Linked DNA regions of Homo sapiens: all the other regions are linked to region 1. Evidence: fine-mapped expression QTL. A gene starts in region 1. Each other region holds a variant in brackets. All regions are shown on one strand. Distances are between the middles of the regions. Region 1 holds the start of KBTBD11 (kelch repeat and BTB domain containing 11). Region 2 overlaps LINC03021 (long intergenic non-protein coding RNA 3021). Region 3 has its middle 18 kb from the start of MYOM2. Region 4 overlaps ARHGEF10 (Rho guanine nucleotide exchange factor 10). Region 5 overlaps ARHGEF10 (Rho guanine nucleotide exchange factor 10).

Region 1 (6,021 bases):
TTGGCTTCCGTGGGCCACACTGGAAGAATTGTCTTGGGTCACACATAAAATAGACTAACACTAATGATAGATGATGAGCTTAAAAAAAAAAAAAACTCATAATGTTTTAAGAAAGTTTACAAATCTGTGTTGGGCCTCATTCAAAGCTGTCCTGGGCCACATGTGGCTCGTGGCCCATGGGTTGGAGGACCTTGCTCTAAAGTGTGAAGCTCCATCAATTTAACTCAGCCATAAAATCGGCTGACATTACACTTTTACTACACCCTGCTCCAGCGCCCCTCACTGACCTCTCCGTGCTCTAGTCCTCACCACAGGGCCTTTGCACACAATGTTCCCGCAAACTGTCCCCTCCTGGGCTCCTGAGCCACCCCTCTCATCCCTTAGTTCTCGGCCTAACATTCCTCTGTTACGTGCATTCAAGGGAATGTATTCCTCTCCTTCAACGCACTCATCTCCGTGTGTTATTACCTAAGAATTAACGTAATTATATGCTGAATGCCTTTCACTGTATTAACGTCTCAGCTGCAGATAGCAGAGAACTAGGCTGACTTTACTTACAACTGTATTCCCAGCACCTAGGACTGAGCCTGACCCACAGCAGGGTGGGGGGTGGGGGAGCAGGGGAACTCCACAAATATTCAGAAGAGAAGGAAATTCATGCTAATCCTTCAAACAAAATGCACATAAGACATGCAACGGTTTCTATTTCCAAGACAACATTTATTTCAAAATCATTTCTAGCAGGAACCTGGCTGTTGGCAAAAAGTAAACTAGATGCTTTAATTTATTCTTAAAGTTTTTGCTCATTGTTAAATACTTTGCAAACATGTGCTGGATACCAACACTATACTTTTAGCTTAATTACAATGATTTCAAGAGGAAAAAAAAAACAAACTCAAGACCACAATTGACACGATGAGCCCTTGACCTCCGGAGAAGGGCAGATATCGCCCTGAGTCACCAAGGGAACACATGCTGAATGACAGGCTGATTTGTGATCAGGAAACCCGCTGTTCTCCGGGCCCTTCTCAAGCCCACTCAGACACCAGTCCTCCTTGATCACAGCCTTGGATGCAAGGAGGCTTAGAGGCACTGCAGCTGCCTAAGTGATTCCAGATTTGCAGGAGAGCTATTATTACTGAGCAATCTGTGCTCTTGGTATTTAGAAAACAACTGAAACATGTGCCCAGATGGAGGCGTCCACAGCACGGAGAGTCTCTCTGTATCAGCACAGGGACAAAGACGGGACCTGCTGGGCTCCCACTGCCAAGGTTGCTACCTGTACCGGAACATATGGAAACCCCATTGAAGCGGGTTTGTATTGGAGTTTACAAATGATGCGATAAGCTCCAAACCACCTTTCCGGATTCTTCCATCCACCCAGAGCAAGGTGCTCTGAGGTTCAAGTTAGGCCCAGACATCAGTCAACACAGAGTCCTGCTCCCTGGGAATTTCTTTAGTCTCAGAGCCACAACATTTAAGCTTTCTCCCCTCCTCCCAAGCCCAATGCTGGCTTAAATACAGTCACGAATGGTTCAGATGCAGACAGGTTCTGAGAAATGATAGTTAGATAACTTCATCACTGTGCAAACATCACACAGGGCACCTACACACCTAGGCGGTGCAGCCTGCTACACACCTGTGCTCCACTGCACAGACTCCTGCTCCAGACTGCACACCTGTGCAGCGTGCACAATACCGCAGGCAATTGTAACACAATGGTGTTTGTGTATCTACACATTTCTAAGCATGAAAAAGACACAGGGAAAACAGTTTTATAATCTTACAGGACCACCGTCAACTTGGCGGTCTGTAATTGATCCGAACGTGGCTGTGCTACACATCACTATAATGTAAGCAACATCTTTTAACTGATTTTATTATGTGCTGTCCAATGCTATGGCCAGCAATGCCTGTGCAACTGACATGGAAAGTTCAAAGGCTTTACCTCATTACAATTTTTACTTAGTTATGCCCTGATGGGAGCATTGCAATGCCAGTTACCATAAATCTGCACACACGAGGTTGTTGCTGGAGCAAATCTGAAGGCAATGGAACGCTCCCTTCCGTGATGTCAGGAATGGGGAGGATTATTCTAATAATAGCACACTATTAGCTCAGGATAAAAGGCTGAAGGGTTCCATTGACATCCATTAAGGGGTCCTAATTGGAGCCTGAGTAACTGCTCCTTAGTGGGAAATGGAGGCGGGAACCGCGGGGAATCGGGCGAACTTCTCACTCAGGGCCTGAGGGGATGGCTGGAACTTTAAAATCTGACGGCGGCGCCTTTCGTGGGCTGAGTAGAATAAAGCTCGCTGCACTGATTTGTTCCTTTTCTTTTCCTTAGAATAGACACTGGAGTGGGTGGAGGGGGAAACGTGGTTTTGTAGGACTCTAAAGAGGTGGAGGGACTTTGGTTCACCCTCTTTTCATGCTCCAGAATGAGCCCCGCCTGAGAGGAGGGACCCCTGCGGAATCCCGCCCAGACCGCCCGGGGGTCTCCCCAGCACATGGGGCGGGGGCTGCAAGGGGCGCCCGGCAGGACTCGGGAGCCGCGGCGCGGTGGGGCGGGTGGGTCGCGGTGCTCGGGGCTCGCGGGGGTCAGCAGCCAGGACACCCCCGCACCCCGGGCGCAGCGGCGGAGGACCAAGGGCCGCGCTCCCCTCCCCAGGGCCCCGAGTCCAGGAGAGACCCCCGTTCGCTCCGGACAGCCGATCCCCGCGACCGCCGAGAGCCAAGCGGAGCAACCCCGGGAGGAGCCCCCGCCCTGGCCCCGCGCGCTTGGCTTCGGCTTCTGCTCCTGCTTCCGTGCCGGCTGGGGCGGCGGGACCCTCGGCGGGGGCGGTGACTGCGGGCGCGGCGCGGGCGGCTCATTGTCTTCCGGCCGGGGTTGCCGCGTCCCGGGGGAGGGCCTGTGGAGACCCCGCGAGGAGGCCCCCACGCCCCCCACGCGGCCTCCCGGAGGCGGAGCGGAGACCACCCACCGCCGCCCACCCCGCCGCGGGCAGCGCTGCCCCCTCCTCTCCCGGTCCCCCCTCCCCTCCCCTCCGCTCCGCTCCCCTCCCTCCCCTGCCGGCCTCCCCTCCCCGCCTCTCCCCTGCCGGCCTCCCCTTTTCTCCCCTCCCGCCTACTGCCGCTCTCGCCGACCACCTCCCACCCGCCGCCCCCTCCGACCCGCGCCTCGGGCTGCTTCCCGCTCCGCCCGCCAGGCCCCGCCGCTGCCTCCCCGGGGTCCGCCCTACCTCGCCGCGGCTCCTCTTCAGCCGCCGGGCCCGGGACGCGCAGCCAGGCGGGTGGGCTCCGGCGCATGCGCGCGGCCGCTTCCCGGCACCTGTGGGAGCCGCGGCCCGGCCTCTCCGAGCACCTGCGAGCGGGAGCTGCTCCTCCGACCCGCAGCGGGGCGTGGGCGGCAGAGGGGGCGGTGGACAGGCCTCTCCGCCTCTCCAGGCCGCGCGGAGCCAGCGCTCCGGCTCCAGGCTGCGAGGGGCGCGCGCGGGGCGCGGGGAGGGGGGCGGGCGCGTGCACACGGGGCGTTTTCGGGCGCGCGCCCCCTGGCTGGGTCTGCGGAGGGGCTGTGGGTTCCCCGGGGCTTCCCTGCCCCGCGCCTGCCCGCCGGGCGCTTCTCCCCCTCCAGGACCGCGGCCCACGTCGCCACTCGAGCCCGAGCCCGAGCCCGCGCCCACGCGCGGGGGCCGCTTCCTGCGAGGAGGCGGGGACAGGTGTCCGCGGGCGCAAACAGCGGAGTTTCGTGCGCCTATTTTTTGGTAAAAGTAGAGGCGATGCGTTGTTGACATATTTAGTGGTTAAAAACTTATTGCCAAATTCTCAACAGATTCCAGAATTTTTTAAAGTTCACAACACGAGAGTGGACGAAATGTCGGAGCTTTTGCTCATATCCAGAAATGTGGCCTCTGCCTCCCACTCGGGCCCTGCGGTGCAGACGGGTTCAGGGCGGCGAGGACTGAGCCAGGAGCGCCGAGAGTTCCAGCTGCTCCCAGGCTGGGTTCTAATTAACGCTGGACCCCTGCTGGTAAATGCTATTTTTAATGGCTTTGTGCAAATTAATGACGATGAGATTTCCATAAGTACCGAGAGCCAGAGCCTTTACTTTCTCTTTTTGTGTTCTTTTTGCTTGTGACAGTCTTTGCCAGTTCCATGCTGTATACACATAATGAGCCGTTACAACTCCAGCACCAAAGCTAACGCCCCGGGAACATCTTTAAAACCTTTTTCACTCTGTTGCCAAGAAGAGTAGTACCTGCTGTCAGTACTTGAATTACAGGAGGCTGAAACTCAGCGAGCTACTGGGATTTTTTGAAAATTGAAAACTTCCGTTAACTATAGCAGAAACAGACCCTTTTGGTGGAAGCTAAAATAATTCCCATGCTGCTCCGTTTTTATTTTGTTCAGTTTACTCCAAAAATGTTCCAAACTCTACTGTGATCTTCTTAGTGCATCTCTACTTCCTTTCGGCTGCAGAATAATACTTCTTTTTCTCTTTTGTTTTTTTTTAGAGATGGAGTCTCACTCTGTCGCCCAGGCTGGAATGCAGTGGTGCAATCTCGGCTCACTGCGATCTCTGCGTCCTGGGTTCAAGCAATTCTCCTGCCTCAGCCTCCCAAGTAGCTGTGACTACAGGCATGCACCACCACACCCAGCTAAATTTTGTATTTTTAGTAGAGACAGGGTTTCACTGTACATTGGCCAGGCTGGTCTCGATCTCCTGACCTCAAGTGATCCACCTGTCTTGGCCTCCCAAAGTGCTGGGATTACAGGCATGAGCCACCGCGCCTGGCCTAACTACCCCCATTCTTTTCCAGAGAAACGTGAACAGGCCAAACAAAGCCTCACCTGGCTATCCCGCCACCCTGGGGTTGGGCCTCCAAAGGCCCGGGAGGTCACCTAAGACACGGTGTTCTGAACATGCAAGCCCGACAGCATCTTCTCTACCATTCTGCCAGAGTCCAGAGACCTGGGAATAGGTCATACCCCCCACTGCATTTTACAAGCTTGGCATACATTAGGTTCTCAATAAATACTGAATTAATGAAAAAATTGCTGAAGTAACTGAAAACATCCATCCAAACCCCACACCATCTGGTAGATAAGTAGTCTGTGGGGAGTCCCATATTTTTCTTACCTTAGATATTTATTTGGAAATGGACTGTAGGCCCAATATGGTCAATGAAACTTGCAGAGGAACATTTCATGCCTTTAATTAGTTCTTCATAACTGCAGGGACCTCTAGAGTTCCTGAAATTGAACTGGGTTGTAATACTGTCAAGAAAAAGGAGGACCTATCTTAAATCTATTTCAAGGGTAATACTATTTTACTATGTAAATTTTCCCCTGGTCAGGGACAGCCTGATCATGCATGGTAGACTCGAAGCATGCAAATATTTCAACATGCAAAACCGCCCTAAAAATATAACCGAAGCTTATGGAGTTGTCCAGGGTACAGTGGTTTACTGGCCCCTGAATGCGGGACTCCATCAAACTGGGTTCCAGGCTGGGAGGTCTCTGAACCCAATTTCTAGACAGCCTGCTTTGGAGTTCAACTGATGGGACCTTAGACACCAGCCTTACCCTCTGCAAGTCTTGTGATTTGGAGCCAGATACTTGGCCTCTCTGTGCTCCAGGGAGACACCACTGCACCTACCTGAGAGGACTGAAGGAGAGGATCTGTGCAACTCACTCAGGATACTGGATCTTAAGCCAATGGGTGGACTTACATTCGTCACCTCTGATTCTGTCTCCTCCTGCGCGGTGACTTAGCAAACACTTCTTCCTCTCCAGCTCTGCTTCTTACTCTCCAGCTCTGCTGCCCTGTTCCAGTGCTGACGCCAGACAACAGATAATTTCCCAAATGCTTGTATTAGCCCTTAGGAGTTCATGTGTTCCTCCCCCAGCCAATAAAGCTGTTAAATCCCAATAACTGTCAGGAATGGAGCCAATTGCTATAAAGTACTTCCAGCTTCTTGGCATGAAGAAATAATTAGAATATATGTGTTGGCTTTGAAA
Region 2 (6,021 bases), 660 kb before region 1:
CCATCCACCAGATTCTTTAGTGTAGATTCCAGTTTAACCACATTCAAACTGAAAGTATTGATAAAGACCAGCAAATAGGGATAAAGTATAAAGGAGGAAAGGGTCAATACATTGGGTTTCATATTCCAACTGTATCTCACCCTGACCATGCGATCCCCAGGCTTTGCACTTAATCTTCCTAAGTGTCTCTGTTTGAGAAATAACAATTTTGTAAAGTTTTGGGTTTTGTTCAGGATAAAATAAAAGTACATGTAATGAGGTAGAAAGGAAGAACTAGGGTATTTAGGAGGAGTATACGAGTGGTTGATAATCTGTGAAATACAACACTCTGATTATTGCTCATTAATTTTTCATGCAATTTCAGCACTTGGGGCAGAAAATCAAGGTGTTTTGTGTTTCTGTCGGGAGTGTGAACACTGCCCTCTGAGACACTGCAGACCAGTCCGCAGCACAGGCCTCCAAGTTTTCCCACATGTGGCACATCGAAGCTACATTCGAGACCTTCTTTGAGCGTCATATTTGTGGAATTCCTTTGCCCTGTACACGTTAATAAGTTTGTTATTGCTTGCCTCTTTTTGAACTGTCTACCCTTAGTTCTTTGCAGAGAACCTTCAGAGTAGACAGCAGGGAAGCTTTCTCTCCATCCCTCTACCTGCAGACACTGGTTTATCTGCACAGCTCAGGGCTTTGGTGAGACTGCCAGGGACAGCCCTGTGGCTCCTCCTCAACCCCTTCTGCTTCAGGGAGATAATGGCAGGGTGACCGCCACCCAAGCGAGCTTGGCAGAAAGGAGAAGAAAACTTTATATAAAAGTCCCAGGGATGGGAGCTTTTAAGGGTCAAGTTTCCCAAATGACACAGTAAATGTGAAAACATGTAAGAGCATGGTATTTTCTGTTTCCTGAGATGTAACAATAATACGAATAATCACATTCATTAAATTACACCTATTAATTATACTTCTGTAGTGCTTCTTAGTTCTAGATGCAGTCACAGATCTCATCATTTCATTGTATCCTCTCAATGATCTCGTGATATTTAAATTTCAATGCCCTCATTTATAAGGGTGGAAAAGGACAAAATTTACAGAGATTGTAATTTACTCAAGTTCAAAACAATTTGAATTTAAGTTTTCTGTATCTTAGTCCTTTGTTTTTACCACCATGCCATCCTATTTTCACTTAAAAATACAAACATTTTATTGCTTCAGTGAACTGAAATGTGATAATAGGAATCTGTTAGTGCATGCCAGCTAGTAACCTAAGGCTTCCATGTGTTATATTTGTGGTCATCACAAATCCCCACACTGTTATGAATCCCATTTTACAGATGAAGAAACTGAAATACAGACATTCAGTTTCTTGCCCATAGTCACTTACAGTAAATAGGGATTCCTGGACTCAAACTCAGGCAGTCCAGAGCCTCCCTCATAATTACCAGGTTATCCTACCTCTCTGGAAGCTGCTGACAAATATTAACTGCTTCAGTCAGTAAAACTGCAACCATTTTCATGCATTTGCCTACTCGAGTTGCTGTGACTAAGTACCACAGAGGGGGAGGCTTCAACAACAGATGTTTATGGTCCAAGACCAAGTTTCCATCTGATTTGGTTCCTGGTGAGACCACCTTCCGCGGCTTGCAGGTGGCTGCCTTCTTGCTGTGGCCTCACATGGCCTTTTCTCAGTGTATGCACTAGAAGAGGGAGAAAAATGTCTGTCTCTCTTCTTAGAAGGCCACCAAGCCTGTAGGATTAGGACTCCACTCTTATTACCCCCCTTGACCTTCATTATCCTCCTAAAGCCCGATCTCCAAAACCAGTCAGACTGGGGATGAAAATTTCGATATATGTATTTTAAAGAGAAACAATTCAGTCCAGAGTGTATCAACAAACAGTAAAAACACAATTAATGGATGTTTTATAGCCTTTATCATTTTACGTGTTTTAGATTTCCAAAGAGTTGCAACTTCTTCCGTCACAGTGTGTATTGATTTCCCATTGCTTCCATGACAAAGAAGACGGAGTTGCCATGTTCAACATGCCCAGCCCCCAGGTAGTCCCTTGCCCACTGGCATAGCTGCCGGCATTCACCCCTGCAAGCTTCCAGTTTGCTTATTTATGTCTACAACTTGATTTTACAGGCTGCTTTTGTTAGAAAAGAAATGATTTGGAGGCTGCCTTTCATTAACAGGAAAACCTTACCGAGGATTTCCTTACCCTCACTACCTGCCTAAATAATTTCTTTTGAACTCCTATATCATTAACACAGTCTCGGGTCCAGGGAGTTGGATATCGGTGTCTTTGGGGGACCCTTACTCAGCCCAGCACTGGCTGAGTGCAGTGGTTAAACTCATTGCTTCATGACATCATCCTGGGCACTGGGTGTTCCACTTTGCACTGGGGGTGAGAGGAGTCTCCCAGCCCTACTCCAATGACAGGTTGGCTGGGCTGAAGGGTCCACATGGCTGTAAGTCTGGTGCCTTGGTAAGAATAGCTGGGAGGCAGGAACAGCCCACCACAGAGGATTCCAGGAGGCCAGGCAGAAGCTGCAAGGCCTCTTACGGATTAGGCTTGAAGGACCCAGAGTGTCACTTCAATTGGTCAAGCAACCCACAGCAAGACCAAGACCAGATTCAAAGGAAGAAGAATTTGATTTCATTTCTGTTTGTAGACGTAACAAAGAATGTGCAGCCCTCTTTACCCTCTTAAACTGTCCTCCCCTTCAAAATACCTGTAGTTATCATAC[T/C]GTACTTCTGTTGACTTCTATACCCAAAACTAATTATTGGGTTATAAGCAATACAACTACATTTTTTCTTTTGTGTTTTATATTTATAATTGACAAAGACAATACTTTTAATTTTATTTTAGAGTATCTTTATACATCAAACGTATTTGCTCATCAATGTATATTTACTTAATCTAATCCCTAGTGTGAAAACAGAAACTCAAACTAAAAAGCAAGTATATTGTCATATACAAATGCATTATCATTTTCATAGAAAAGTCCAGAAAGAACACATAATAACATTTAACTTTAGTATCAATTAGAGAAGAAAGACTTTTAATCCACATGTATTAATTGCTCATCACTATTTGATATGGTTTGTCTGTGTCCCCACCCAAATCTCAACTTGAATTGTATCTCCCAGGATTCCCATGTGTTGTGGGAGGGACACAGGGGTCCGTAATTGAATCATCGGGCTGGTCTTTCCTGTGCTATTCTCCTAAAAGTGAAAAAGTCTCATGACGTATGATGGGTTAATAAGGGGTTTCCCCCTTTGCTTCCTCCTCATTTCTCTCTTGCCGCCACCATGTAGGAAGTGCCTTTTGCCCTTCACCATGGTTGTGAGACCTTCCCCAGCTATGTGGAACTGTAAGTTCAATTAAACCTTTTTGTTTTGTAAATTGCCCCGTCTCGTGTATGTCTTTATCAGCAGCGTGGAAACAGACCAGTACACTATGGTAATTGGTAAAGTTAGGTGAATTTCACTATTTTGTTTATTGATATGAAGTTGAAAATCAGAAGGTAGGAAAACTTGGAACAGGGCTGTCTTTTCTGATGCCTACTAATGGCTGAGACTATAAGTGCTAAAAAATAAATATTAGAAATGAAATGGGTTATTTTATATTTTAACTTTTAAAAAATTTTAGGTGTGATATTTTTATCAATGAGATTGTGCTAACAAGACATTATATGGAGCCTTTAGTAAGTTGACTCCGTATGTCCAGTCGAATTTAAAATTGCGGTCAATATAAGAAAGCTGCATGTTGTAGTGGTGACGAGTTAGCTGTGGGGTTTCTCAGATCTCTTAGATCTTTTAGGCATAGAGGGAAAAATAATATATTAACTGTGTGAGAAACAAGAAATGAAGTTAATTGAAAGGGAACTTAGCAAGGAAAATCAATTTTCACTGCAAAACAGTGTGCTGCTGCTGTTGCAATGTTCCCTGCTGCAATCCAGGAGAATCTGTGAATAAGAAACAGATTCCTAAGGTCTCCTTTCACTATTGAACCCTCTTCCAAGGACTGTTGCCAATTACATGAGATACTTCAGTTTCAAAACATAGAAATAAATTTTAACAAACTATCAACAAAAAACAGGGTTAGGGTTTGAATGTCTGTGTCCCTCTAAAATTCATGTTGAAACTGAATGCCCCATGCTGTAGTATTAAGATGTGGGAGCTTTGGAAAAGTGGTTATGTCCTGAGGGCGCCACCCTCCCGAATAGGATTAAAAGACCTTATAAAATGATCTTCCCAGAGCTGCCTGGTCCTTCCTTCTGCCCCTTCTGCCATGTGAGGATAAAATGAGAAGCACCATCTATGAAGCAAAGACGAGGCCTTCACCAGACACCAAATCTGCTGGAAACTTGACCTCGGACCTCCAGCCTCCAGAACTGTGATCTAGAAATGTCTGTTTATAAGTGACTTAGTCCGTTGCAAATGTCTTGTTATAACAGCACAAATGAACTAAGTCAACCAATTTGATAATTAAAACAATAGAGAGAAATTGTTTGATTTTCATAATGGCAATTTCTCTTATCACAACAGATTTTCATATTTGATGTCTCTATGTTTTAAATGTTTATGAAAGTAATACATGCTTTTTTCAGTTCCCTTTCCAGCTTTATACATGGTTCTTATAAAATGCAATTATCATAGAGTTCTATTATATGGAAAGTGAAAGTCCCACATATTATTGCAACCAAAAGAGAATCATCATGGTTAGTTTCTACCAGGCTCGCATTTTTGTTCCTTTTGGAAAAACCATTATTCCCAGAAACAAAGAACATCTCAATTTAGAAAGAGGAGATTTATACTGAGAGGCAGAGGACACAAGTTCCAGTTCTCTCTCTCTCTTTTTTTTTTTTTTTTTTAGACTGAGTTTCGCTCTTGTCGCCCAGGCTGGAGTGCAATGACACCATCTCATCTCACTGCAACCTCCACATCCCGGGTTCAAGCGATTCTCCTGCCTCAGCCTGTCAAGTAGCTGAGATTACAGGCGCATGCCACCATCCCTGTCTAATCTTTTGTATTTTCAGTAGAGACGGGTTTTCACCATGTTGGCCAGGCTGGTCTCGAACTTCTGACCTCAGGTGATCCACCTGCCTCGGCCTCCCAAACTGCTGGGATTATAGGCGTGAGTTACTGCGCCCTGCCTACTTTCTCTCTTATACAAGGTGGTTCCCTATAACATATAGTTAATAATGCCTTAATTGATGATGCTTGGGATGTGGTCAGGGACCTTTTCCGTTTTAAAAGTCTTTTGTAATTTTATTTTTTTAAATTTTTTGTCTAAGTAGCACAGTACTTAACTATTGCAGATACATGTCTGCCTGTTCTACAGACCTACAGACTGATTGCGTTAATCAGAATTCTTCAGAGAAACAGATCCAGGAGGTCTATACCCACACCTATCTGACTATAGCTTCAGAATCTACAGAACTAGAAAAATTTATTTTACAGCTGACATAAGAAATATTAGGATATACACAGAATATTCAATACAAATTCATCATTCTTTTGCTTTGCATAATACCTACACATGGCTAGGTAAAATTTTGAGCAAATGGGTATTTGAATTGAACTAAAACTTGTTATCAGACTAGAGATAAGACATTATGCTTTGACTATGACCTTTCTGGTTTATAAATCACCCTCCTTTTCTTTGTTAGAAAAAGTCAAGGTTATACATTTTATTTTTACTCTCAAAGACATGTTAGTTATATTGGCCTAGAACAAGTAACATATCAGTTAGGATTTATAACTCCAGCCACTATGTATAAAATGCAAAAATCCTATATTTCTATGGGAATAAGAAATTAAATCACATTTTAGAATTGGAGCTTAATTCCTCATTGATGAGTAGGAAACCCAGTATTTCCATCTGTGAACAACTTAGAATCAAACCAATCATCTCAAATGGGGGCTATTTTCCATTTACTCTCAAAGGCATAACCATATAGAAACATGGTGAGTACTGGCAGCTGCGTGCAGTTTGATACGGTGGGATTGCAGGGTGTGA
Region 3 (6,021 bases), 53 kb before region 1:
AGATGATAAATTATGTAAATATATTTTATCTCAATAAAAATATTAAAAGACACAGATAAAGACAGAGATATCTATCTACAGACTATCTACCTCCACAGAATATATTATAGATATCTGCACATCGTGATGGTTAATTTTTATGTGTCAGCTTGGCTAGGCCACTGTACCGAAATCTTTGATTATCATTATTCTTGACATTGTCATGAAGGCATTTTTAGGTGTGATTAGCATTTTCATCCATGGGCTTTGGGTCAAGCAAATTGCCCTCCACAGTGTGGATGGCCTCACACACTCAGCTGAAGGCCTTCAGACAAAAAGCCTGATCTCCCAGGATTCTGCCAGGGGCCGGCTTGAAGACTCAATGGCAACTCTTCCCTGGGTCTCCAGCCCACCCAGCACCTCCATAATTACATGAGCTATTCCTTAAGATAAATCTCCTTTTATGTTGGGTTTTGTGTTTTACATCCTGTTGGTCCTGTTTTTCTGGAGAATCCTGACATTCACACAAACATGCATGCACACACACACGAATACACAACACACACACACATGCATGCACGCACACGTGAATACACAACACACACAAACATGCAGCATGCACACACGAATACACAACACACAAACATGCATGCACGCACACGTGAATACACAACACACACAAACATGCATGCATGCATACATGAATACACAGCACACAAATATCCATGCATGCACACACAAACACAAAACACACAAACATGCATGCACACACACGAATACACAACACACACGCATGCATGCACAAATACACAGCACACACAAACATGCATGCATGTACACATGAATATGCCACATGAACATGCATGCATGCACACACAAATACACAACACACAAACTTGAATGCATGCACTCACAAATACACAACATGCATACACATGCATGCATGGACACACAAATACACTATACACACAAACTTGCATGCGTGCACAGACAAATACACAACACACACACAAACATGCATGCATGCACACATGAATATACAACACACACAAACATGCATGCAAGCACACATGAATAAACAACAGAAACATGCATGCACACATACATGAATACACAACACACACAAATACACCACACACATACACACACAAGAACTGAAGACTATCAGCTTGAAAAAGAAGGAAATAATAAAATCCCACAAAATGAATATGACAACAATCTTCTTCTTGACAGTCTCTGTGAGTCGCAAAAAATATTTTCAAGTGACAGCCTGACTTGGGAGTCAGAAATGAAACCTGGCTGAAAGAAGGGGAGGAATCCAGTCAGTGAGCTCCCCAGGGACCCCAAAGAGGCGTTCCCTGAGGGCGAGGATGCAGCTGGGTGCAAAGCTCAAATCTCCATGCAGCCCCCAGCATCACCAGGAGAACCCCAAACCCTGAGCCGCTTATGGGAGTCCCAGGCTGATGCTTCCCCACCACACCAGATGCCTGCAGAGGTCAATGTAAATATAACCTGGAAAAGCTACCTTATCGAATAGGAAAATTTATTCCTACAACTTAATTTTAATGATTTATTTTGTTTGACCCAATATATCCAAAAGATTACCATTTCAACTACATCACACATAAAATTACTAATAAAATCTTACTTTCGTCACACTAAACCTATGAACGTGGTGTGTATTTTACAGTCACAGCGCATGTTGATTCTGAGGAGCCTCATTTCAAATGCCGCAAGTCTCCCTGTGCCCAGCCAGTGGCTCAGCCCGGGAACTGAACCTGGGGGGGTCCTTTCTAAGGCAGAACCGTAAGCCAAAGTTCAACTCCTGGGAGTGGGATTAAGCCTGAGCAAGACAGGATTAGCAGAGCCAGGAAATCGACAGTGACCAGATCCACATGGGGGAAGGGAGCAGGCCAGGAAACCTCAGCGAGTGAGACATCATCTTTTAAAACATGGACCAAAAACAAGAGTAGAGAACAGTCGGTGAAATTATAAGAGCGTCATGTCCCCACCCTCCTCCTAGAGGTTCAGGAAAGTTAAATTCTTAATCTTACAAGCACTTTTATACAAATGAGCAACAGAAACATTGAGGTTACATTCCATAAACAGTCCCATATGGAGAGAATGAGAAATAAACTAACTCTACAGGTGGAATTGAAAACGGGACAAATTCAATTCTAATAAAGGATACAATTGCAAGGAATCAACCAGATGTGGATAAAATTGCAAAGAATCAACCAGATGTGGATAAGAATTGCGAGGAATCAATCAGATGTGGATAAAAGCACGAGTTCATTGAATGGGTTACCTTCTGAGAGGGATGGGAAACCAACTTCTTATACTAAAAACTGGGTAAACAAAAAGGAAAAATCAAGTTCTTTTTTCCAGCCTCCTGAATGTAAATGGTACCACTCGGTAACCAAGTGTAGGTGAGGAGTGGATCTCCTTATAAAACTATTCCAGCCAACATTTGAAAACAGGGTGAGGAGATAGTAGCACCTTCTCAGACTCCTTTTCTGTTTTCCTTATTAATTTCTCAAATTCAGTTTTTTTCTTTCTTAAACATTTCTGAACTATATAAGGTTTATTTTTGACATTCACTATATAGATGTGTGTTTTTTAACAACAGCTACTGGGAATTTGAATACCACTTAGGCCCTTTTGAACTATGATCCACAGGTATTGGTCCCTTGCTAATTGACAGGCATTTCTAACCCTAGTGCCTGTGTTATTTTATTTTCGTTTCCATGACTCTGTAATGGAGATTCTATTATTATTGTGATTTTACACATGAAGCGATGGAGGCTTTGAGAGGCTGGGCACGGTGGTTCACACCTGTACTTCCAGCACTTTGGGAGACTGAGGCGGGCCAATCGCTTGAGCTCAGGGGTTCGAGACTAGCCTGGGCAACATGCTGAGACGCTGTCTGTACAAAAAATACAAAAATTAGCCAGGGGTGGTGGTGCACACCTGTGGTCCCAGCTACCTGGGAGGCTGAGGTGGGAGAATCAC[T/A]TGAACCCAGGAGGAAGTCAAGGCTGCGGTGAGCCAAGATCGCCCCACTGCATTCTAGCCTGGGCAACAGAGTGAGACCATATCTCATAAATAAATAAGTAGATTTTCAGGGTCATGTGTGGTATATGAGCAAGCCTGGAGTCCCAGCAAAGGATCTCAGCCTCAGAAGTGTGAGCCCCTTGCCACCTTCTTGCAGGAATGTCTGCTGGGAAGTGAATTCTACCCCCGCCCCCAGGTCATGGTGAAGCCCTAACTCCAGTGTGGCTGTGTCAGGAGATGGGCCCTACAAAGGGGTAATTTAGGCTAAAGGAGGCCCTGAGGATAGAGCCCTTGTGTGGTAGGATGGTGTCCTTGCAGGAGGGAGAGGACACAACAGAAGGTGGCCGTCTGCAAGCTGGGAAGAGAGCCCTCCTCAGGCACCGAGTCAGCCAGAATCTGGATCTGGGACTTGCAGCCTCCAGAACTGTGAGCGATAAATGCCTGCTGTTGAAGCCGCCCGGTCTGGGTGCTTCGCTACCACAGCCGCGCTGACTCGTGTAACACTCACAGCAAAGCTTGTTTGAGTCTTGTGACCTACAGCCTTAAATTGCTATTTAACTATTACAGGTGAGTGCTCTTGCACCCACATCTGTGTTTCTGACCCCCAGCCCCCGGAGCAGGGAGTAAGCCCTGTGTTTCTTTTGACCCCCGACAGTCTACTCCAGCACAGTGCTGTCAGCAGACGTGGTGGGAGGTCGATTGCTGCGTGAGGTCGTGTTTCCAGAATGTACAACACCGAGTGTTGAGCACGTACTCAAGTCCTGTGTGTTCCAACTTAGGGAAGAGTCTTCAGTGCCGCCTGCTCCGTCCCCTGTGTCTCCACCATGCCCAGCTGTGACTACGGCCCCTAAGAAGGCTGCACTGTGGCTGGACGCATGCAGAGGGCTTTTGGTGGCTTTTAGTCTACCCCATAGGCCATTGCTAGAAGTTTTGCTTCTTGGTCCCAAATGTTTATCTGCCAGAGATAAATCATAATAATGCTATAGAGCACGTGATGCATCCCTGTGAAATACGAGAACAGCAAATGCTGAAGAGGGCTGTTGGCCACTGATGATCCCAACTCTACATAAAGGTACATTCACAAAATTCATGGAAAGTTCAGAAGAAAGTTGGGCGAAAGTTTAAGACTTTCATGAGACCCTAATCAGACACTCACAATGGCCCACATCGATGGCAATCTACCTCACTCACAGGACATGTTTATTTTGGAAACATAAGAAAATGTGTTTCTGGGCATGCAGGCGAAGTGAGGGACAGCTCTAGGGAAGGAGCCAGGAAGCCACAGCCTCCGGCAGAAGCTGCCCGGCTGCATGCAGCCCTCGTGTCAGAATGGCTTTGATGTTTTTTAAAGGGTTGTAAAAACAAAACCACATAAAAACAAGACTATTTGACAAACACTGATAGGCCCACAGAACCTAAAATATTTACTATGTGGTTCTTCTCAAAAAGTTTGCAAACCCCTGGTCTAGATCACCCGAGTTACAGAGTGACTTTTTTTTTCCATTTTATGTGCAAAAAAGTTTAATTAAAATAGCAGCTTGGGCCAGCCATGGTGGCTCACGTCTGTAATCCCAACACTTTGGGAGGCCAAGCCGGGTGGATCACTTGAGGTCAGGAGTTTGAGGCCAGCCTGGCCAACATGGCAAAACCCCGTCTCCACTAAAAATACAAAAATTAGCCAGGCGTGGTAGCACATGCCTGTAGTTCCAGCTATTCAGGAGGCTGAGGCAGGAGAATCACTTGAACCCGGGAGGCGGAGGTTGCAGTGAGCTGAGATTGTACCACTGCATTCTAGCCTGGCAACAGAGCGAGACTCTAAAACAAACAAACAAAAAAATAGCAGCGTGTTTGCCTCAGGCAAAGCAGATACTTACGGAGGGACGGGAGTGTGTGGTAGGAGTGCCCGTGCAAGTTACAGTCCCTGACGAGCCCCCCAGCCCACTGACTAGTCACTTGGAAAGTGACATTCCTAAACTGGCTACAGAGTGACTCCGCTGTGGGATGCCTCTGGCCTGTCTGATAAACGGCTTTCCTTCTGCCAGTCTGCTTTGAGATCTGTGGACAGGTTTCAAACATGGCTCTAAAGCCCTGCAGTAACCCTGCAGCTTGACACGGAAAGTTTGCTATGCAATGAAGCAAAGTTTCAAATCACACGAGTGTGTGTTGGCTCGGCTCAGTGCCATGCCTCCACCCTCACAGAGCGCGCAGTATGAAGCCATAGGAACCCCCCCATCCACCTCACAAAAGCAAGGCTGTTCGCAAAATAGGGTTTTAAACCGATGAAGTCATAATGTCATAGATGAACTTACATTGGAAAGTCTAAACAGAAATGTGTAGAGCAGATGCTTCCAAAACATTTGAAAATGTGAGGAAAGACTGCAGTTTTCACTATGCTAATACGTATAAAAATATAATTTGAGGTTTTCCAAAAGGCTCAAAGCTCCTGTTGGTCGGTGGAATCCACTAGGCTCAGACGTTATGTTGACTTTTTTTTTTTTTTTTTTTTTGAGACCGTTTCACTCTGTCGCCCAGGCTGGAGTGCAGTGGTGCAATCACAGCTCACTGCAACCTCCATCTCCCGGGTTCAAGCGATTCTCCTGCCTCTGCTTCCCAAGTAGCTGGGATTACAGGCATGCCCCACCATACCCAGCTAATTTTGTACTTTTAGTAAAGACCGGGTTTCGCCATGTTGGCCAGACTGGTCTCGAACTCCTGGCCTCTAGGAATCCACCTGTCTCAGCCTCCCAACGTGCTGGGATTGCAGGTGTGGGCCACCACATCCCGTCTATAGTGACTACTAACTCATCAGACTTGAATGTACATAGGACACCACGGTAGGCTCACATGAAGGGGGGCCTGCAGGGTGTCCTATGATTAACACGATCGCGAAATGATTTCCTTCATCATATGACATGCATTATGTTTGAAAATAAAAATGCACTTCAGTGCTCTAGCAAGCATTTATTGTGTGTGCGCAATGTAAATAGAATA
Region 4 (6,021 bases), 27 kb after region 1:
TGAGTAGAAGAAGCAATACGTCCCCCAAGTATGGGAGGGAATGCTACCAGGGGGATTCGCCCTCTGCTCTTCCCAGCCTGGAACATAAAACAAAGGACAGGCCAGGGCCACACCGGCCACCGAGAAAGGCTGTGGCTCCCAAGTCCTCAGTCTCGTTCGTTAACTCACCATCTTGAGTCCGGTTTCATTTACTGAATTCCCTTACGGTGTAGTCCATGGTCTTCAGAAAAGTTACACGTTTTTTGTCTTTTTTTTTCTAATGGAAATTTTGGCCATTTTATTTGGTCACATAGTTCCTGGAGGCTCTGTATTCGCTCGGTGGAGACTCAGAAAGGCGCAATTTACCATGTGTCTCAGCACTTTCCCATCAAAAATATCCTCCTTTGAACATGCGGGACAGAGCAGGAAACATCTGCCTGGTGATGTAACCTACTGCAACTGCTCACAACCTAAAAGCTGAGGCGCCGTGAACTCACTCGCTGTAAACTCTACTCCTTTATAACTTAGAAAGGTAACGACCGCTCTAACGAATGTGTATGTTAATCACAGACCTTCATCAACTGTTAGTCTGTGTTGAATCTGATGTAGCTTATGTGAAAGAACGTGAGCTAAATGGTTTTCAGAAGTGAATTCCAAATAGAAGGAGAAAAGCCAGGGCCTTAGCTACAGATTCACGGATTCCCCAGGGGCCAGCGTGCTGAGACCCTGAGGAAGGAAGGAGGTTTCATCACGTTGTGTGAACTTACACAAAAGGCATGAGTTATAATACAGTTTGTTTTTTTCAAATTTTGTTGTTTCGGCTTGGCAAGTCTTCATTTGCAGAAGCTACCTGACTTTTATATTCCAGCAATAGCACAAAAAGATAATTTTATGTCTTGTTGCCACACACACACACACACACACACATGAAAACCCATTTGAGCATCGTCATGAATACAACTCTAGAATGAAGGTTTTGTGTGTGTGCGAACAGAGCACAGAGGACATGTGTGGGCCTCCAGGAACCATCTTGGACGATAAGGAGGAGAAGAACCCAGGAGCAGTGACGGCCCGGCGACCTCAGCATCCGCGCACTTCAGCACGGTATGAGCATGCCCCCACCGGAATGTCTAAATACAGCATGAAATGCAATAATGCTTATTTCTATGAAATATATGAAATATTAGCTGAAAGGCAAAGACGACTAGACAGAGGAGATGAGATGAAAGGACTCTCTGGAGGAAAGGACTCTCTGGCCTGCTCATTCCCTCTGAGTCACAAAATGCAATGAAAATCAGAACCATTTCAGTCTATGCCGCACTGAGGATCTTACAGAGAATCACTGTCAGAAGCATCACAAACAAAACTGAACTTCTGGTGTCACCGAGGTTGCCTCTAACCCGTGTACCTTTCTCCTGCTGACAAGGCCACGGTGGCAGCAGACCACAGCCTGGGAGCAGAGAACTGAATGTGGGTAAAGCAGTCAGTGTACCCCAGAAATCAGTGAAGCTGGAGCTATTTCCAACTTAGTACCGAAATGCCGGAGAAACCTGCCAACGAGAAGCACGGCACTCCATCTGGACAGACTCATGTGTTTGCTTTCATGCGGGTCTAAAATGCAGACCTGACTATGTCGTGTAGGAATAAGTAAAGACCCACGATTCAGGGGCCCCCGGAGCAGGGGGCTGAGAGCACGCACTGTGGCCATGGAGAGCCAGCCCAGGATGTTGGAGGGGCCCGGGAGAGTGGGCGCCAGGGGATGGTGGCTCTGCAGAGCCCCATGCATCTGCTGCCAAGTGAGAGGCTTGTGGTGGGCTTGGGATGGATCCATCATCGGCCGCCTGGAAACTATGAGCTGAAGGGTGAAAAGTCCCAAGGAAGGCTCAGCGCCCAGCCACAGACAACTTCATCATCCAAAACACGCAACACAGGCAGCTGCGATTTAGCCAGAACCTGCGACCTGAGCAGCCGGCAAGGGGTCTGCATTCTGTTTCTGGGTGGGTGCAGGACTGTGTTGGGTGCTCTATGCTTGGAGGGAAGCAGGATAATTCCATCTTTCTCTTCTACAGGAGAGGTCAAAGACAGTATCTAAAACAAAGCATCAAGAACCTGCCATACAGGAGTGGCTTTCGAGCAGCAGCAGTAGGGAGGCGGGCGGGAGAGGCAGCTGACAGCGGGGTGGGGTATGGGGACAGTGCGGGGG[G/A]CCGGGGCGGGTGCTGACAGTGGGTGGGATGCTGGGATGAGAGGGTGGGTGCTGAATGCGGGGTGGGGTGTGAGGATGGGGGCAGGGTTGGGTGCTGACAGTGGGTGGGGTGCTGGGATGGGGGCGGGGCTGTGAGTCCCCAGAGCGCAGGCTTTCCTATCCTGCTTTGCTTTTCATAGCCTGGGCGTGAGTGCTGTTGGGTTTTATTAAATCGTGTGCAAGGGTTATTTTATTAAGAAATCAAATTCAAAATACAAACTCCACTCACACTTGCCAGAGCCTTCCCTTGATTAGGAGTTTCTTTCTGATCCCACCCGGAGAGGGATAAACACCAAGGATCCTGCAGGGCCGCTGCATTTCCGTGGCTGCTCTCGGAACTCTGAAACCAGGGTAACCGTGGGCTGCTTCGCCCCGGAGGGAGGTCTGCGCTGCAGGGCAGCTGGGGCAGGATTTGGAGGCTCGGGTGCTGGAGCCCACGGGAGGTCGAGTGGAGAGGTTTTTCTCATAACACCCTCCTCACCTCCCCTTGTGTACAGAACTTTGAACACATGGACACTCACTGCCGCGTGAGAGCGTGCTTTGGCAATTACGGATGTGACTTGGTTTTGTCCCAACAAGGACAGCCTATTCCTGCAGCAAACATTTGCTCTAGCAGTGAGTGCTCCAAAGAAAACACAAGGTCCACAGCAGAGCGTCTGCTTTCTGAGCCACAGGGACTTAACCATTTTGGTTCTCTAAATATAAACTTGCATGTTACATAAACCTCCTTTTCTCACTAAGAGAAATCTCCTGTAGTATTTTAACAATGACTTGTACAGTTAGCCCCTGAGAAAAGAACGGCTATCATGGACCCACCGTGCACCGAATATATTCACCCTCCCATCTCCAGTGGGAGTGCGGCGGGGACACGGAGGCCCCGAGGAACATCCTCAACACCTCCTCGGCCTCCTCATCCTCCCCTTGTCAAAGGACGGCCTCACACCCGTTCTAGAACCAGACCCCTAATCATTGTGGTTTTTTTCAACGTATCATAAATGGCCCGTCATGGACTGAATGTTTGTGTCTCCCCAGATTTCGATGTTGAAGCCCTGCCCGCAGTGGGATGGTGCGAGGAGGCGGGGCTTTGGGGACGTGATTAGGGTTAGATGAGTTCATGAGGATAGGGTCCCCATGATGGGATTAGCACCCTTATAGGAAGCGGAGGAGACCCCAGGGCTCTTTCTTCACCACATGAGGCCCCAGCCAGAAGGCACCAACTGCAAAGCAGGAAGCAGATCCTCCCAGAAACCGGCCCTGCAGGCACCGTGCTCCCCGGCATGCTGCCTCCAGAACGCGGAGGGGCAGCCTCTCTGGCTTGTAAGCCAGCCCGTCTGTGGCGTGTGTCACAGCAGCCGAAGGGCTCGGAGGCAGAGCCCTTACTTCATGCCTTCCCCTTAAAACTGCAAATGTCTTCCAATACCCACCAGCAGGCAAAGAAGCAAAACAGCCCTTCCACGGACCCCACAGCGGCCTCCGGCTACCCGTGAAAGAAGCCGGTTGGGCCCCCTCCTCATTTCTTTCCTCCATCCTGTTGTAGGATGATCCTCCCAAAACTCAATGTGTAATGGCCTTCTCCCCTGCCCAGAAACTTCAGTGACACCCACCAGCAACAGGGCATTCACAAACATAGGCCTCTGTTGGCCTCTCCCCAACAGCCCTCCCAGCCAAAGGGAGGCCTCCTGTTCTGTGTTCTTCAGCCTCAGGTCCTGGCTTCCCCAGGGCCTTGTTGCACCGATGATGAGAAATCGTCTCCCACCCACTCTGACCTACAGAGATGGCACTGCCACGCGGCTCCTCCCAGCACGCGGCTCCTCCCAGCACGCGGCTCCTTCAGGACCTGTGCCCTGCACCGGGAAGCGCTAAAGTGGGCTGACCATGCTCCGTACTCCCACGTCTGTCCCTGGGCCTTGTCCCACCCCATTACCTGGCAGCATGTTGTGAACAGTGTCCTGCACTGGGAAGCGCTAAGGTGGGCTGACAGCGCTCCGCACCCCCCACGTCCGTCCCCGGTTGCTGTCCCATCCCTGGGCCCCGTCCCGTCCCCTTACCTGGCAGCATGTTGTGAACAGGGGTGGCGATGTTGATGTCCTGCAGGTGCTTGAGAGTTTCCGTGTGAAAAAGGCGGAGCGTGGACCCTGAGGTGAAGGCAATCCAGATCCCGACGCCGGACACGGCCATGTGGGAGATCACCATGCCTTCCTCCTGGTGGGCCTCCAGCTGACCCTGTGAAATCGAGAGGTCAAGTCTGCTAGCCCCGTGGAGTGAGTCTGAGTGGGGCCTGTTGGGTCCACGTGGCGTCCAGCTGGAGCGCCATTCAGTGGCTGCAACACAGTAGCAGGCTTTGCTCCAAATCACAGGCGTCTCCAGCAACCAAACACCAGCAACCCAACTGCCTGCCATTTTCCAATCATCCTGGCTCCTTTGTGAGCCCAGAAAATGGCCATTCCAAAGACACAGGCATGGTGCGCCTGCCGAGGGGCCACTGAGCTTGTGTCCTAAAGGAGACATGGGCAGGCTGGCGAGGGGAGGCACAGGATCCATCCCCCCAGGCCCATCAGAACCTGCTGGAACCTTCCTCGATGTCTCCAAGCTATGGCATGGGGCCCCACTGCCTGCCTGCAGCCTGACCCTGGTTCTGAGTCTGTGCCTCCTCTTAGCTCTGCTGTCCTGGAAAGGCACCTTCTGCTTCTCCAAGCAACTTGGTCCTTCTGGAGCTTCCAGGCTCAGCTGCAGCCCCGCAGCTCCGAAAGTGCATCCCAGCGGCCTGCTCTGAGGGGTCCCACGGGTGCCTGGGCCTGGGCCCTCGTCACCCCACAGCCAGCAGGAGCTGCTAACACAGCGACCCCCCAACATGGCCTCAGGGGCTGCCTGGAGTTCAGGCTCTCTGGGATCAGTCCCAGGAGGACTGCCCCCGCCTTGCCCATCAGGGATTGGAGGGGGTGACAGAGGGTGAGGGCTGGGATGAAGCTTAGAGACACTGCGTGCCCCAGGAACCAGCAGCCTCACAGCTCTTGAAATTAAAGAAACTCACGATCCTGCACAGTTATCTAAAGTAAAGTGATGAAACTCATAAAAACCCACAGGAAATAACCAGACTGACATCTTGGCCCTACGAGTTGTCCCACAATCTGAGAATAAGGGAAAAGACGACAGCCCCCATGGTGGAGACTGCTGACTCCACACACATGCCCCGTGGCACCAAACCCCATCCTGCGGCACTACGCCGCGCCCAGAGCCCAGTGAACCCGGCGGGCAGGAATTCAGGGATGCGACTTCAGTGGATGGGAGATCCCTTCTCCCATGGCATCGCCTCTTATTTCAGTTGAGATTCCATCAGGGACAGGGGCCAGAGGACTCCAGCCTACACAGGGGCGCTGCAGGGCCTGAGAGCTGAGGAGAGGACTGTGTCCTCAGGCTGGGCACGCAGGGCTGGGGTCCCGAGGGAGGCGACACGGTGCGGGAGGCTGGGGCCCCCAGGGAGGCGACATGGTGCAGGAGGCTGGGGTCCCCAGGGAGGTAGCACGGTGCGGGAAGCTGGGATCCCGAGGGAGGCGACACGATGCGGGAGGCTGGGATCCTGGGGGAGGCGACACAGTGCGGGAGGCTGGGGTCCCGAGGGAGGTGACACGGTGCGGGAGGCTGGGGTCCCCAGGGAGGTGACACAGTCAGGGAGGCTGGCCCACACGGCCCCAAGTCCCATCACTGTGGGTCTTGAGCGGGCTCCACATCTGACTGTCCACCCCCCTGGAGCAAACTGGAACCCCCCAGGTCCCCTGATGTGAAGTGAGAGCCCCACCTCT
Region 5 (6,021 bases), 44 kb after region 1:
TAATGGAAATGCTTTTATGTTGCAATTAGGCTAAAAGTGTTGTAGGGTAATTATTAGCCCCAGTGAACATGGGCTTGCTTTTCCTTTGTAATATCTGCACAGGGCCCAGTCTATCATTATGTGATTAAATATGCACATGCACCCATGCACAACACACATGCACGCACACACACACGTGCACATGCCATATGCACACACACACGTGCACATGTCACACACATACACACATGCAGGCATGCACATGTGCACACACACCCACAAGTACGTGCACCTGCCGTCACATGCACACAGGGACACACACGTCTGCACATGTGCACTCAAGGCACACACACGCCTGCACACACATACGCCCTCACAATCACGTGTGCATACACACATGTGCATACATGCATACACACCTGCTCACACAATGCACACCCCTCACACTCCTGTGCATACACACATGTGCATGGGCCTTCCCATCTGGTACTCATAGCCCTTTAAAGCACGGCACACGGCAACCTCCAGAAATATGTGGGCTCAGGGCAGAGCTACAATTTTCTCTGACATTCACACACTCTGAAGGGCATGGAGTGGCACAAGAACGCAGGGTTGTGAATCCTAGGTCAGAGCTCTCTCTATGCACCGCCCACTGTGCTTGGATCCTGGCTGTCAGGTGTGGCTTGGCAGTGTCCTACCAATAGCACCATTCCTTTGAAACGAGAACTCAAAGATCAATGACACGATGGCCTACTTCAGACGTTTCCCTCGGTTAAGGTTTAACTTCCAACAACTGAACTTTGTTCTCTGAGCACCTGGGTGGGTCATTCTGCAGTGTGGGCTTGTCTTTCTTGGGATGACTTCTCCCTGTGTATGTGTCCCAGGCCAGAGCCCTCAGCAGGATCCCAAATCGCAGCCGGAACCAGGCACACGCTAATGACGTTTTGAACTAACACTTAAAAATCTGGAAATTGCCCACAGAATTTCACATTTTTAAGTCCCTTGAAAGCTCAGAGCTCTGGCAACAGTGAGGGGCTAGGAAGCAGCCTCCCCCTCCCTCTGCCCGGGCCGAGGCCTCCAGCCAGCCACGTCCCTCACCACCAAGAACGAAGTGGCAGGCTATGCGCTTCTGCGCAGGCTGCCTCGCACGCTCCCACACGGTACGCCGGACAGCTCTTGGTGAGAAAGATGCGAAGAGACACGTTCAGCAGATCTCAGTTACAGATCATGCAACGCGTCTGACAAGGCGAAAACACAGCCCTGCACGGGGCTCCACAGTGGACAGGACAGCAATGCAGCCAAGTAAGAGGCTGGAGAGATGCTCGCTAGTAAACCCAGGGGAAAAAAGGGGGACATAAGCATAAAATACATTTTACGTAATAGAAATGTTATTTCTATTGCATTTAATAGAAATTAGAAAAACAGAAAAAAATCCAGATTATATGAAAAAGTCCTATCAACACACATTCCTCCACGAAGCTTCATGAAAGAGTTGAGTGCAGAGTGGTAGGAACACAGGCAGCAGGGAGGCGGCTCTCGGCGCACATGCGGAGGGGCCTCCGCCTACCGTGGAGCAGAGACAGGACGGGAAAGCCGGCCAAGGAGGCTGGCAGAGGTTATGACAACAGGTGAATGACAAAGCAGGACTGGAATGGGAGAGCCCAACCCCGAAGACACAAAACCGTCCATGGAGAACTGAAATCATGAGGCCAAGTGAAGAGGGGGTGCAGACCGGAATCCAGGCCGGGGCACCCACCGGATGAGAGGGAGGCAACCAGAGGCCCGCCAAGGAGCCAGGGATCGGCCAGGGATCAGCAGGGTCACACTCCAGATGGCTGAGGGACGAGACAGGAGCGGCTCCTGTGCTTACTCCACCTACCGGAGTGAGAAAGAAGTCCAGGCCTTCTTGGCGCAGGTGCGCACAGGCCAGGCCGGAACCACACGGGAGAAGGAGGGGCCGTCCCCGTGGAGCAGGTCGAGAGAGCCTCCCCAAGGAGGAGGTGTCAAAGTCCGGGGGCAAATAACACCCCAGGCTCTGGGAGGGGCTGGCGCAGATTTCTAAGGAGGGAGGAACTCCAATAGCAGCACTCAGAGCAGAGAGAACGGGGGTGGTTGGAGGGCAGAATGCCTTGTGAGCAAGGAACAAGGACTGGAGGACTGGAATTCTATTCTAAGTACACTGGGGACTCACCACACAATTTTCAGCGGGGGGGCGGGGAGGGTAAAAACCTTATTTACAGTTTAAAAAGCTCAATAACAAATATTTGGAGAATGAATCAGTAGAAGCGGAAGAATGAAGGCGAGGCTACGCTGCCATCCAGGCGGGAGCTGGGCGGTGTGGACCAGGGTGGTGATGATGGGGGAGTGAGCTGGGACATGGTCTCGGGGTACAAGAACAAGTGGTGGATGGCCTGGGAAAGATAACAGGACCCGCCAAGGCGTCGCTCCCGGCCGTGGGGAGGGTGGTGCAGGGCAACTTTCGGTGAGGGAAGCCCTGCGTGTTCCACTCCAGGATGGCAGCACCGAGACTGGCTGGGATCCAGCTGGGGCTCGGCACCCCTGCGCTCAGAGCTGAGTGAGGGGCCAGGAGAGCAGCCTCAGCCAGCACCAAGGAAGCTGGAAGGAAAGCCCCGTACCCAGAGCTCCCACAAGCAGCGGCGGCCAGATCCACAGGAAGAGCCTGCAAAGCACAGCTGCCACCAACGCGGCAGGGGCTGGAGAGAGAACAGACACACAGCAGCTGCCCACCCCCAGCGGCTGCGGGGACCAGGCGGGATGGGCCAGGGAGGGCCTCGTCTAAGGCACCCAGCAGAACACAATGGAGTCCTTAGCCCTGTGGCCAAGAGAACAGCAGGGACCGAGGGCACGGGACCGAGGGCACAGCACCGGGGCAAAGAGGGCTGGCCCAGGTACAGGAGGCCCCGCCGGGCGGGCAGGCTGCTCAGCTGGTCAGCGCAGGACATGCTGAAGGAGGCTCTGCATGGCCCGGTGCCCCCATCCGAGGGGGAGAAACAGGCAGGCCGAGAGAAGTGGGAGGGTGGGAGGAGACGGGCAGACTGACTTCTGAAAGATGTCTGTATATTCAACAAACACCTTTTGGGGAAGAAGCAAGGCACCCGGGCCTTGGGCAAGGGTGACGAGCGCAGGGGCGGAGGCACAGGGGCGGGAGGCAGGAGGCCGGTGGGGAGGTGGGGAGGCTAAACCGGATGCACAGTCCCCTGAGTGAACCCCAAGGACCGGCCAGGAGGCCGTGAGACCCGCCTCACCTGGGGCTCTGGCGTAGCTGGCGACTGCCCCGTTGACCAGGCCAGCGTACAGGCTCTGAGACGTGCAAGCCAGGCTCATGACTGTGGACTTCTCAGGAGTGAAAAAGTGCTGAAGTCTCACTTTCTTGGAGCCTTGACTGCTTTTATAAATGGAAATGCTTTAAGAGAAAAATACAAGCTAATAAATATATTTGCTCGTTGTAACAAGAACGAGGGTGCCTGTTAACATAAACACAAACATTTCAACTCTTCCCTCTTGCCCTTCCTTCTCCATTCCTAGGGACACTTGCCAGTACTTTTAAAAAATTTGCAACCACCTTGATTTCTTTATTTTTAAAAGGGAAATTCTGGGATATATGAAAAAA[C/AC]TTAGTTCTTCCTACTGTGTATCTTGGAACTTCACATCAGGAAAATCATTTTAACTCTCCTTTAAATGGTGTCAGCAATTCAGTATGATCATGACATAGAATATGGCTGTTTTATTCCAAAATATAAGGGGGGAATGTCCTTTTCAAAACCATTAATATAAATGAGACATTTCAGTGGCAAACAGCCAAACTGTCCCCTTTAAAGAAATACCACTTCTCTTTAAGAGTTTCCTAGAATAATTTCCATGGGCCCAATTCACTAGTTATTTCAAAGTGCAATGACCCTAAAAATTTCCCCTGGTATCCCCTAATTCCTGCACGGGCTACTCCTGAGTCAAAGTCAAGGACTCTTTCCAGGACAGGCTCCCCACCACGCCCTCCATGGGCAGAGCTTGCTAATTCTCTGTAACGCAGTGAGCATGCCCTACCTTCCCTCCTCCGTCCCTACACAGATCGTGGGGACATCAGAAGCTCTCACGGCCGGGGTCTCGGGGTCCGGGGGTGCCCCAGGCTCTCTGCGCTTCTCCTCGACGGGAACGTACAGCATGCACAGGATGCGAGATTCCACGTTGAAGCACTCAATGACTTTGGGAGTGGAATTTTGAAACGAGACGATGGCAATCTGACCCATTTGATGGGTGCAACTTCCGATCTGAATCAGAGAATTAGGAGGAAAGAAGAAAACGACCATGTGGCGGCTTCCATAATACGCTGGAACCTGACCCTTAAAGGCCACGACAAGCTTCGATTTTCATGTGAGAATCAACACACTTAAAAAAATAAAAAAAAATTCTTAAACAATTGCTCACAGAGCCCCTTTTTCTTTTCAACACATTTAATTCAGTTTTCAAAAAATTTTAAAGCAAAAGCGTAACTTTCATTTCTACAAAGTCACATTTCTATACTTTAAAAATCACGTACTCATCACAATATGAAGGTAAGGGCCCATCTATCCTCAATTTAAAATCCTAAGAAGCAGATTATTATCAATTTTAATAACTTAACACTAATATTCAATGACCTAGGCTAAGAAAATAAACCTTTCAAATAGGAAAAACATCAGTAAGAATGCATCCCAAGTAGCTCATTGGAAGTCAACATGTGGTATGCTGTGGAATTTCTTTTTTTTTCTTTTTTTTGGAGACAGTCTCACTCTGTCACCCAGGCTGGAGTGCAATGGCATGATCTTGGCTCACTGCAACCTCTGCCTCCTGGGTTCAAGCGATTCTGCCACCTCAGCCTCCTGAGAAACTGGGACTATAGGCTCGTGCCACCACATCCGGCTAATTTTTGCATTCTTAGTAGAGATGGGGTTTCACTATGTGAAAGTACAGACGGGGTTTCACTATGTTTGGCCAGGCTGGTCTCAAACTCCTGACCTTGTGATCCACCCGCCTCGGCCTCCCAAAGTGCTGGGATTACAGGCATGAGCCACCACGCCTGCCGTGGAATTTCTAAAGTAGCATTGCTGCAACAGTGTACATGAACTTCCTGTGTGTTTGAATCTCTACAACGAGAACACATAGCACAGTTAGTTTCCCAATTTAAACTTAAATTTATTTGTCTTTTTTTTTTTAAGTGGGAAGGGGTCTGATCCCTGTAAACAGAAAGCACTAGCTGGTTTAGGGTGATGTTTTCATTGATTCTTTTTCTTTTCCACCAACTTTGAGAATGTTGTTAAACTCTCCTTATTCTTGTATTTGTTGTCGCTACATACAGACATCCTACTTTCATGCTTTTGTGGGAAGGATGCCAATCTGCCAAGCCCCTGTCCTGCCTACAGGGCCTGGGGGCTATGACCAGGCCAGGTGATGAAGCTTCAGCCATGACAGGTCTGCCTACCTGGACGGAAAACAGTTCTCTTAGAAGTGGAAGCCCCCAAGGGAATTAAGGCTACTCCTCCATTCATAGGTTGGTACAAATGAAATACCAGCTAATTGGGTTGTTCAATTTCTGACACTCAACTAGGAACACTGACCAAGCAGGAGCTGTGGATGTGAGAAGTGAGAGGCAGTGGCGTGCTGCACAGGACGCCTGGGAGGAAAGGATGAGAGTTTGGAAAAGCACAGTGGAGCCCTGGAGGGCGAGTCTGAGGCTGCAGGGAGGGAACACAGGAAACCAGAGAGGGGAGAGCCTGGGACCACACAGCTTCAAGAATGTCCTCTGGTTTGCAAGAACCAGGAACGTCTACTGCAATTCCAGCCTAATTTCAGATGCAATATTTCATTTGGAACAAATTAATTTTAACTGCTAAGTTTCCACTGGAAAAAGCCAGTCTTGGAACAAGAAAAAAAATCCATGCAATGTTGACACCAAAATGGAAAAACATATTAAAATTATTCTCTTATTAGTTAGTTGTCTCTGGACTCAACTTTATCTGGTAAATGTTTTAGATGAAAAGGAAAAGAAAC

What was found. PIP is the estimated chance that this variant, and not a neighbour inherited with it, causes the effect.
Region 2: its variant is the best candidate, but not a certain one, in a credible set for the expression of KBTBD11 in left ventricle (GTEx, PIP 0.90).
Region 3: its variant is the best candidate, but not a certain one, in a credible set for the expression of KBTBD11 in atrial appendage (GTEx, PIP 0.86).
Region 4: its variant is the best candidate, but not a certain one, in a credible set for the expression of KBTBD11 in esophagus mucosa (GTEx, PIP 0.68).
Region 5: its variant is the best candidate, but not a certain one, in a credible set for the expression of KBTBD11 in tibial nerve (GTEx, PIP 0.64).

The regions. Positions count from the first base shown.
Region 1 is chr8:1,971,157-1,977,177 of GRCh38, reverse strand. It overlaps KBTBD11 (kelch repeat and BTB domain containing 11), which reads right to left and starts at 3,501. Exons shown (of 2, transcript NM_014867.3): 1 at 3,243-3,501. It overlaps KBTBD11-AS1 (KBTBD11 antisense RNA 1), which reads left to right and starts at 3,833. Exons shown (of 3, transcript NR_136275.1): 1 at 3,833-4,030; 2 at 4,515-4,638; 3 at 4,821-5,999. KBTBD11-OT1 (KBTBD11 overlapping transcript 1) reads right to left here and starts at 5,781. Exons shown (of 3, transcript NR_126346.1): 1 at 5,660-5,781; 2 at 5,141-5,253; 3 at 734-1,279.
Region 2 is chr8:2,635,616-2,641,636 of GRCh38, reverse strand. The region is part of intron 2 of LINC03021 (long intergenic non-protein coding RNA 3021); the gene reads left to right. Among named protein-coding and RNA genes, the nearest start is that of LINC03021, 90 kb to the left of the region's middle. The variant T/C (reference allele first, on the strand shown) is at 2,744.
Region 3 is chr8:2,024,363-2,030,383 of GRCh38, reverse strand. No RefSeq gene overlaps it. Among named protein-coding and RNA genes, the nearest start is that of MYOM2, 18 kb to the left of the region's middle. The variant T/A (reference allele first, on the strand shown) is at 2,992.
Region 4 is chr8:1,943,904-1,949,924 of GRCh38, reverse strand. ARHGEF10 (Rho guanine nucleotide exchange factor 10) reads right to left here. Exons shown (of 29, transcript NM_014629.4): 27 at 4,270-4,444. Among named protein-coding and RNA genes, the nearest start is that of KBTBD11-OT1, 24 kb to the left of the region's middle. RefSeq lists an enhancer at 1-255 and a silencer at 3,346-3,497. The variant G/A (reference allele first, on the strand shown) is at 2,183.
Region 5 is chr8:1,926,668-1,932,688 of GRCh38, reverse strand. ARHGEF10 (Rho guanine nucleotide exchange factor 10) reads right to left here. Exons shown (of 29, transcript NM_014629.4): 24 at 4,039-4,262; 25 at 3,246-3,403. Among named protein-coding and RNA genes, the nearest start is that of KBTBD11-OT1, 42 kb to the left of the region's middle. The variant C/AC (reference allele first, on the strand shown) is at 3,611.